Linked DNA regions of Homo sapiens. The protein of the gene in region 1 purifies or fractionates together with the protein of each later gene. This does not show direct contact. Each region holds a gene or a part of one and is shown on either strand. Other genes may lie near its edges.

Region 1 (3,500 bases):
ATGTTGTTAATTTCTTGAAATGAGTACTGTTTCTGCCTTCTGCTTTCTTGATTTCAGCTTCTTATCCTGAATTCTAATGCACGTGAGGGTACAGTTAAAAACATTTCCTTGGCTTTATTGAAATTCAATGGAAGGATGATCGATAAATGGGGGGTTAGTTTCTAGAACGTTACCTTCTCTTTTGAATCTCAGAGAGTTTGCTGTAATAGAATGTTTGTCCTAGAAGTTTTTAAGTAAAACATTCAGCCGTGGCTTAAAATTGAAGGGAATCATGAATCAAACTTCATAAAGCAGGTGGCTTGTTTTTTTAAAAAACATCTTAAAATAGTTTTTACTAAGTGATTTGGCCAAAGTGTTCTAATTAGGAAAAAAATGGAAGAATACTGATTGACAATGGTCAGGAGACCAATAGCACTGTTCCAAAGGATATATTAATTCTGCAAAATTACATAGTCATTGACCATGTTTTCTAGTTTTAATGAATATGCCACAGTAATGGATGAGAGGTATATGGGAGTTATGCACTATCTTTTCAGTTTTTTTGAAAATTTAAAATTATTACAAAATAAGTTTGTTTTTTTAAAAAATACAAAAGCAGGAGCTATGAAGTTGCAGAATGGAATTTAATATAACCAAAAATGCCAGTCTTGATTACTTTTCTTTCTGCCGCTAATGTACATCTCTAGTGTTTATTAGCAAATACACGTGTACATAGCATCTCTTTTACATTTTCACTGTTACTCTTCCTTCCAGAAGTCAATGTGATTTTAATTTGAAGCAAAACTGAAATGGGTTCTTCTTCCTCATTCTATTCATGTTGCTTTTTGATGGCCATGGCATAAGGAACTCTATCCCAGGAATACAGCTTTGCATTAGGTAAGCTATCAACTTGATCACGATACCATTTTTAAAGTTACTTACTGTAATCATTTCTCTTTTAGCAAAAATAATAATGTATTTTGTTAAGATTTTTAATTCCTCTAGACCAGAAGATTCTTTCTTCTCTTCTGAAGAGATGTTACACCTTCTAAGGCCCATCAATGCCATACTTTGCACTGATAGAACATTTAATGTCAGATAAATTTTTCTGCCAAGTGAATTTTTTTTCTTAACTTAGAAAAATGTTAGATTTGGAGTTATACTGCTGTTTGAATGCTGACATGCCATTTCTGAGACGTGTAACCACTGGCAGGTCTTTTAATTTGAGCTTCAGTTTACTCATATTTCAAAAGGATGCAATGATACGGGAGTGTTGCACAACGCAGGTTTACATAGTGTGCTTTGTGAACTCTAAAGCATTTCACTAATGTAAAGAGTAGGCATAGGGTATTGGTGTTTTTGTACATTTGTGCCAGGCTTTAAATTTACTGAAGCAACATTTACTATGTTTAAATATGCTTTCTATAGTAAGCATGCAAGTTACCATATGCTCTGATTAAAGAAACCTCTGAAGGACTTCACAATAAGTAGCTGGTGGGTCTGCTTCCCTATTATATTGCTGTCATCTGTGTTTTTAGGATGTTTAATAGGTGTTTAAATCACGTATAAAATTTGACTTGGAGTTCCTCAGCCGAATAATAAATAGTGGCTGTTATTAAACTCATCAAAGTTGGAAGGAATCTTGAAGGTCATCTAGTTCAGGATTTCTTCAGTATGTTGCCCTTCATCTGCGTTAAAAAAAGCCAAATAGCTTTTAAGAAGCATAGTGGAACAGGCTGGCATCGGTGTGTTTGTTTTAGAACTGTTGCTATTGGATTAAAAAAATAAAATACATGTGCAAAGTGGCATAAAACTGCTGGTATCTTTTTTTTTTTGAGACAGAGTCTCGCTTTGTCGCCCAGGCTAGAGTGCAGTGGCAGGATCTCAGCTCACTGCAAGCTCCACCTCCCAGGCTCAAGCAGTTCTCTGCCTCAGCCTTCAGAGTAGCTGGGATTACAGGTGCCGGCCACCACACCCGGCTAATTTTTTTGTATTTTTAGTAGAGATGGGGTTTCACCATCTTGGCCAGACTGGTCTTGAACTCCTGACCTTGTGATCCACGGGCCTCAGCCTCCCAAAGTGCTGGGATTACAGACGTGAGCCACCGCGCCCGGCCCACTAACTGCTGGTATCTTATTAAGGTTTTTGTTTGTTTGTTCATTTGTTTGTTTATTTGTTTGTTTGTTTGTTTTTGAGATGGAGTCTCGCTCTTGTTGCCCAGGCTGGAGTGCAGTGGCAGAATCTCCGCTCACTGCAACCTCTGCCTCCCAGGTTCAAGAGATTTTCCTTCCTCAGCCTCCTGAGTAGCTGGGATTACAGGCATCTGTCAGCATGCCCAGCTAATTTTGTATTTTTAGTAGAGACAGGGTTTCGCCTTCTTGGCCAGGCCAGTCTCAAACTCCTGACCACAGGTGATCCACCGTCTCGTGCTCCCAAAGTGCTGGGATTACAGGCATGAGCCACTGTGCCCAGCCGTCTTTTTTTTTTTTTTTTTTTTTTTTGAGATGGGGTCTCGCTCTGTCACACAGGCTGGAGCGCGTGGCGAGATCTTGGCTCACTGCGACCTCTGCCTCCCGGGTTCAAGTGATTCTCCTGCCTCAGCCTCCCAGGTAGCTGGGACTACAGGCATGGGCCACCATGCACAGCTAATTTTTTTTTGTACTTTTAGTAGAGAAGGGGTTTCACCATGTTGGCCAGGATGGTCTCCATCTTTTGACCTGGTGATCCGCCCGCCTCGGCCTCCCAAAGTACTGGGATTACAGGAGTGAGCCACCATGCCTGGCTTGGGCCATCTTAAGTCTAAGGATGGTCAGCGTGCGAAAGTTTGTGAATGCATTGTATATAATAAAATTATATAGATTATTTGTGAAAATGATATTCACGTTTACTTTCCATACTCTGAAACTATAGTGATATTCACAGCCAGGCACGATGGCTCATGCCTGTAATCCCAGCACTTTGGGAGGCCAAGGTGGGCAGATCACATGAGGGTCAGGAGTTCGAGACCAACCTGGCCAACATGGTGAAACCCCATCTCTACTAAAAACACAAAAATTAGCTGGGCGTGGTGTCACGCACCTGTGGTCTCAGCTACTCAGGAGGCTGAGGCAGGAGAATCGCTTGAACCTGGGAGGCGGAGGTTACAGTGAGCTGAAGTGGCACCACTGCCCTCCAGCCTGGGCGACAGAGACTCCATCTCAAAAAAAAAAAAAAAAAGAAGAAAAAATTATATTCACCTTTTCTTTCCACCTCTTAAGCTATAGTGGGCCTGAACAAGTACTTTGGATTTAAATCTCAATTTTACTGCTTACCAGTTATATGACCTTAAGTTGCTTAGCTTTTTTGTCTATCTCCAATTCTGTACAATGGAAGTAAAAAATACCTATTGAGTGGGTTGCTGTGAAGATTAAGTGAGACAGAGCATATAAAGTGCTTTGCATAGACTTTGTACAATGTCTGTATTAAGCAGTTTATATATTTGTATATGTATGTCATAAATAGTAGTTGCTGTTATTTCCTAT
Region 2 (4,800 bases), on another chromosome or scaffold:
AGCTGGAGCCACAGAGAGGCCTCATCTGCTGCTGGAGATGTCACCTGAGCCTGAGCAAGAGAGAGAAAGAGAAGAAATACCATGGCTCTTTCTTTCCTCCTGCCTTCTCTTCTCCTGCCACTGCCTCCCATTGGCTAAACCGAGGCCTGAAGCCAGATGCTCTGGGAGCCTGAGAAACTGCCCCCCGCAAGACTCAGCCCACTGCAATACAGAGCAGAGCAGAGGGGCACGGAAGGGATCTGTAGCAAATGGTAGAGAATGACCATTCAGCAGAAATAGTTAAACAGGCTTGGTAATACCTTTGTTGTAAAACCTTTAAAATATCAGATACACTTGCACATAACAAAATAATTCCCTTAAAAATAGACTGCAAGGCCAGGCGCGGTGGCTCACGCCTGTAATCCCACTTTGGGAGGCCGAGGCAGACGGATGATGAGGTCAAGAGATCAAGACCATCCTGGCCAACATGCTGAAACCCCGTCTCTACTAAAAATACAAAAATTAGCCGGGCATGGTGGCACGTGCCTGTAGTCCCAGCTACCCAGGAGGCTGAGGCGGGAGAATAGCTTGAACCTGGGAGGCGGAGGTTGTGGTGAGCCGAGATAGCGCCACTGCACTCCAGCCTGGTGACAGAGCGAGACTCTGTCTCAAAAAAAAAAAAATTAAAAAATTGACTGCAATCCATATAGACTAGTTCACACCTCTTCTCACACCCCCATCCTACTACGCGATTCTGAATACTACTGTGTCTGGTCTGATATAACGACATTCGAAGATGGATTTTCAGTGTCAGACATTTTGCATTTTCTGAGCTGAAATCTCATGAGGGTTGCTATAGAAGAGGGAGATGCACATTCCATGTCACAGAAGTAAAAGCTCACCCAGAGTGTGGTTATAGGGCAGCAATGTCATGGCAACTGGACTCTGGTCTTGGGGCTCTCAAGGGATTGCTGTGTGTCCTTGGAGAGGGTCACAAAATCTCCGGACTCCCGTGCCAAAAATGGAAATCATACCCATCAGGGTGGTTTATGTCCGCTCACAGTCCACTCTGCTTCTCTTCTTTGCCTTCCCAGAAGGGTCCAAAATGGTTTTTGAAAGAAACGATGAGCCGGACTAAGAAAACAGATAATGTGCCCACGGCCACGGAGCTGGCAGATGAGAAGGAATTCGGTCTCTGCGTTTCCATACCAAGGCCCTTTCCACTCACCCACCGCTTCTCTTCCTGCCCGGGGCATCTGCTGGCGGAGGAAGGCTTGTCCACGGAAAGGCAAAAGCGACTCCCGATCAAAATCCGGGGGCACCTGGTAGCGCTCTCCACGCCAGCAGAAACGCCCAACTGACTTCTTAATGGAGGGAAACCCCGGGCTTGGCCCGCAGACTGAGGGGCCCGCGTTGCGGGTTTTGGGGGCCCCTCTGCCTCTGCGCACCGGGTGGCCCCGGGTCCCCTCGGCCCTTCCCGCCGCCTCCCGGGTCCAGGGTTTCTAACGGGGCCGCGTGCCCGGGGCGGGGCCACGCGCGATTGGCCGCGCGGCATCGGGGGCGGGTCCGCGGCTGGCCGGCCGGGCGGGCGCCGACAATGAGCCTCCATAAAAGGGAGCGGCGGGGGGCAGGGGCCCCGGATTGAGCCCTCCCCGCCCGGGCTCCCGACGCGCCGAGGTCTCGGGGAGGCCCGGACGCGCCGGTCGCAGGCCCGGCCGGCGAGCGGCGGGCGGGCGGCGGGGAGGGGGCTGCGCGGGGCGGGCGGCGGGCCCGGCGCTATTCCGGCCAGGAGGCGGGAGGCGGTTGCCGGCTGCGCGCCGAAGCCTGCGCGCCAGTCCTCCGGCCACTGCTATCGCCCACGGCCGCACCATGGCCCTAAAGGCCGAGGGCGCCGCACTCGACTGCTTCGAGGTGACGCTGAAATGCGAGGAAGGGGAGGACGAGGAGGAGGCCATGGTGGTGGCCGTAATTCCGCGGCCCGAGCCGATGCTCAGAGGTGAGGATGGAGGGGATTCCACTTCCGCGTCACGGTGCGGGGCCGGGGCTGGGGCCGTCCCTCCCCAGTCGGGGTCCGGGACCCGGGCACCTTCTCACCCCCTTCAGCCTTGGGGCCCAGGTTTCCCTCTCGGATCTGGGTCCAGGGCGCGCTCTTGCACCTCCCCCACCATGGTTTAGAAGCTCAGGCCTCCTCGATTTCCCCCTCCCTTCCCCTTTCCCCCGCCCAGGGTCTGGAGACTTCGATCCACGCCCCGCACGCTCCGGATCTTCCGGTGCCCAAGCGCCCCCTCTCCCGGGCCCAGCACCAGAGGCCGGATCCCCAGAGGCGCTGGGTGGTTGCGGCCGCCGTCTCACAGCCTGGGAAGGGGAGGCAAGCACAACGGCCGGGCTGTGTTCTAGTCCGAGGGGCGGCGAAGCCTCTAGGCCGGAGGCTACAGGCGGGCGCCGCTGCCGACCTCCAGGAGAATTTTAAGGGCTCTCCGAGCATAACGCTTCCCTGCCCACCACCCCGCTTCATTCCCATTCCCGGGCCTTCCACTTGCAGGAGCCACAGGTGTCAAGTTCTGGAGAGAAGGGATGAATGGGACTGCATACAACAGCTAGTTTGGAAAAGCAGTGCAGTGCTAGAACGAGATTAGCTTTGGGAGGGGATGGGAGGAACAATCTCAGAACACTCGCTCTCCCCTCCCCCTTCACCGATTTCTAGTCCTCAGGAGCTTGCAAACCGTAAGAAAACAAAGAGCCATCTTTGTGGGAGACTTAATATGCATGAAAATGCAAATATATTTCCATTCTCCCACCCCGCTTTTCTTAGGCGGGATAGTACCCAAAAGAGGTTGAGAGCAGCAATGCCATTCATTGAACTTCAGCCGAACAGAATGATGTCTGCCTGCACTGCCTGTCATCCTTTTTGGAACTGGAAGGGTTATAAAATTCATGAGGGAAATAAAGGTCACCTCCCTTCTCGGAGCATTTAGTCCAAAAGATAGGTTGTTTTCCTACTTCTGCTAATATTTGTTGAGTGTTCATTGGGCATTGTCAGAGGCTGTCTCAGTTAATCCTCTCAACCCTGCAAGGGTGGCCTTATCCCCACTGTTAGGGCAGGAATAGACAGGTGAATTCATTCAACCAATATTCACTGGACGTCTACTTTAGGCTGTTTAGGCTAGTGTTTTTAGGCTGGGAAGTAGTAGTAAACAGAGCAACCGAAACCCTGCTCTTGAAGAACATATATATACCAATGGCTAAAGACAGAGAAATAGGTTCATGTATAGTATGTTGGGTGGCAATAAATGGTTCAGAGATCACTAAAGCAGGAAAAGGAGAAAGAGGAGGAATGGGTATTTAATTGAATATATCGAGTGGTTCAGAAAGGGTTTTCTAATAAGGTGAATTTTGAGCACAGACCCGAAGGAAGTGAGGATGCCAACCTTGCAGATATCTGCAGGAAGAGCATTTCAGGCCGAATAGCAAGTGCAAAGGTCCGGCAGCACAAGCTTCTGGAAAGATTTCGGTGGAGAGAGGAAGAAAGATTGAATTCAAGGTTTTTGGCCTGAGCAACTGGAGGAAGAGCCTTCCCATTTTCCGAGATGGGGAAGGCTGCGGTGCTCTTGGGAGACTGGGAGTGAAAGTTTGAATATGATTACGTTTGAGATGCCTATTTATGACATATTCAGGTGGAGAGGTCAACTAAGCAGTCAGATACATGGGCCTAGATTTCCTGGAAGTATCTAGCTAGTGGCGTAAACAGAAATTGCCAGCAGGCAGACAGTGGGAAGAGAAGGAAGTAGAGAAGTGTCTAAGGACTGAGTCCTGGGAAACTCCAGTGATGGCAGGTTGGAGACCGAGTCAGTCCCTCATCACACATTACTAAATGCCACTGCATGCGAGGAGATACAGATACAGATGCTGGAGATACAGATGCAAAACATCAGAAATCTGTATGGTCATGGATTTTTTTTTTTTTTTTGAGACGGAGTTTTGCTCTTTTTGCCCAAGCTGTAGTGCAATGGCACAATCTCGGCTCACTGCAACCTTCGCCTCCCGGGTTCAAGTGATTCTTCTGCCTCAACCTCCCGAGTAACTGGGATTATAGGCATGTGCCACCACGCCCAGCTAATTTTGTATTTTTAATAGAGATAGGGTTTCCCCATGTTGGTGGGGTTGGTCTTGAACTCTCAACCTCAGGTGATCCGCCCACCTCGGCCTCCCAAAGTGCTAGGATTCAGGCGTGAGCCACCGCACCTGGCCGTGGTCATGGATGCTATGGTGTGGTAAGGAGACAGGCAGTGAACATCCCAAAAACAAGTGCCAGGTGGTGATGTGTGCTGTGTTGGAGGTGATGCATAAGGGGAATGGGGTGCTCTAGTGAGGGGAGATGGTCTTCAGCAACAAGCCAGAGGAAGGGAGGGAATATTGAGAAGAGATGAGGAAGAACTAGCACACATAACTGAGAAAGAGGGCCAGGGAAGCAAAAGAAGAACCAACAGAAGGTCATGCCCTAGACGCAAGTGATGAAAATCAAGATGGAAGAGGTGATCGGCAGAGGATGAAGTTGAGAAACTGACCGCAGAGTTTAGCACTGCTGACTTGGATGAGAGCTGTTTTGGAAGACTAGTAGGGAAGAAAGCTGATTGCAACTGAGAGGTCATTTCTGCCCATGGTCGCATGAGAGATAGGTACAAGACATATCTCGTATCTCTTTCAGACACCACCTCTTGTATCCATGCAAGCCGAGGCTCCTATTTCTCATACCACCTCTTCCATGCAGCCCCCAGGTATTAGGGCCTCCTGTGTTTTAATTTTGTCCCATCCTCTCTGGAA

The links. The genes of interacting proteins can lie anywhere in the genome.
Region 2: the proteins of ZBTB43 (region 1) and SPINDOC purify together in Homo sapiens (affinity purification with mass spectrometry; one large-scale study listed by BioGRID and IntAct). This does not show direct contact.

What each region holds. Positions count from the first base shown.
Region 1 is NC_000009.12:126,808,040-126,811,539, forward strand, and holds part of ZBTB43 (zinc finger and BTB domain-containing protein 43), read left to right. Parts: intron 1-57; exon of another isoform or gene 58-153; intron 154-753; 5' UTR 754-876; intron 877-3,500. UniProt on the Homo sapiens protein: May be involved in transcriptional regulation.
Region 2 is NC_000011.10:63,811,839-63,816,638, forward strand, and holds the start of SPINDOC (spindlin interactor and repressor of chromatin-binding protein), read left to right. Parts: upstream 1-1,617; 5' UTR 1,618-1,848; coding exon 1,849-1,975; intron 1,976-4,800. UniProt on the Homo sapiens protein: Chromatin protein that stabilizes SPIN1 and enhances its association with histone H3 trimethylated at both 'Lys-4' and 'Lys-9' (H3K4me3K9me3).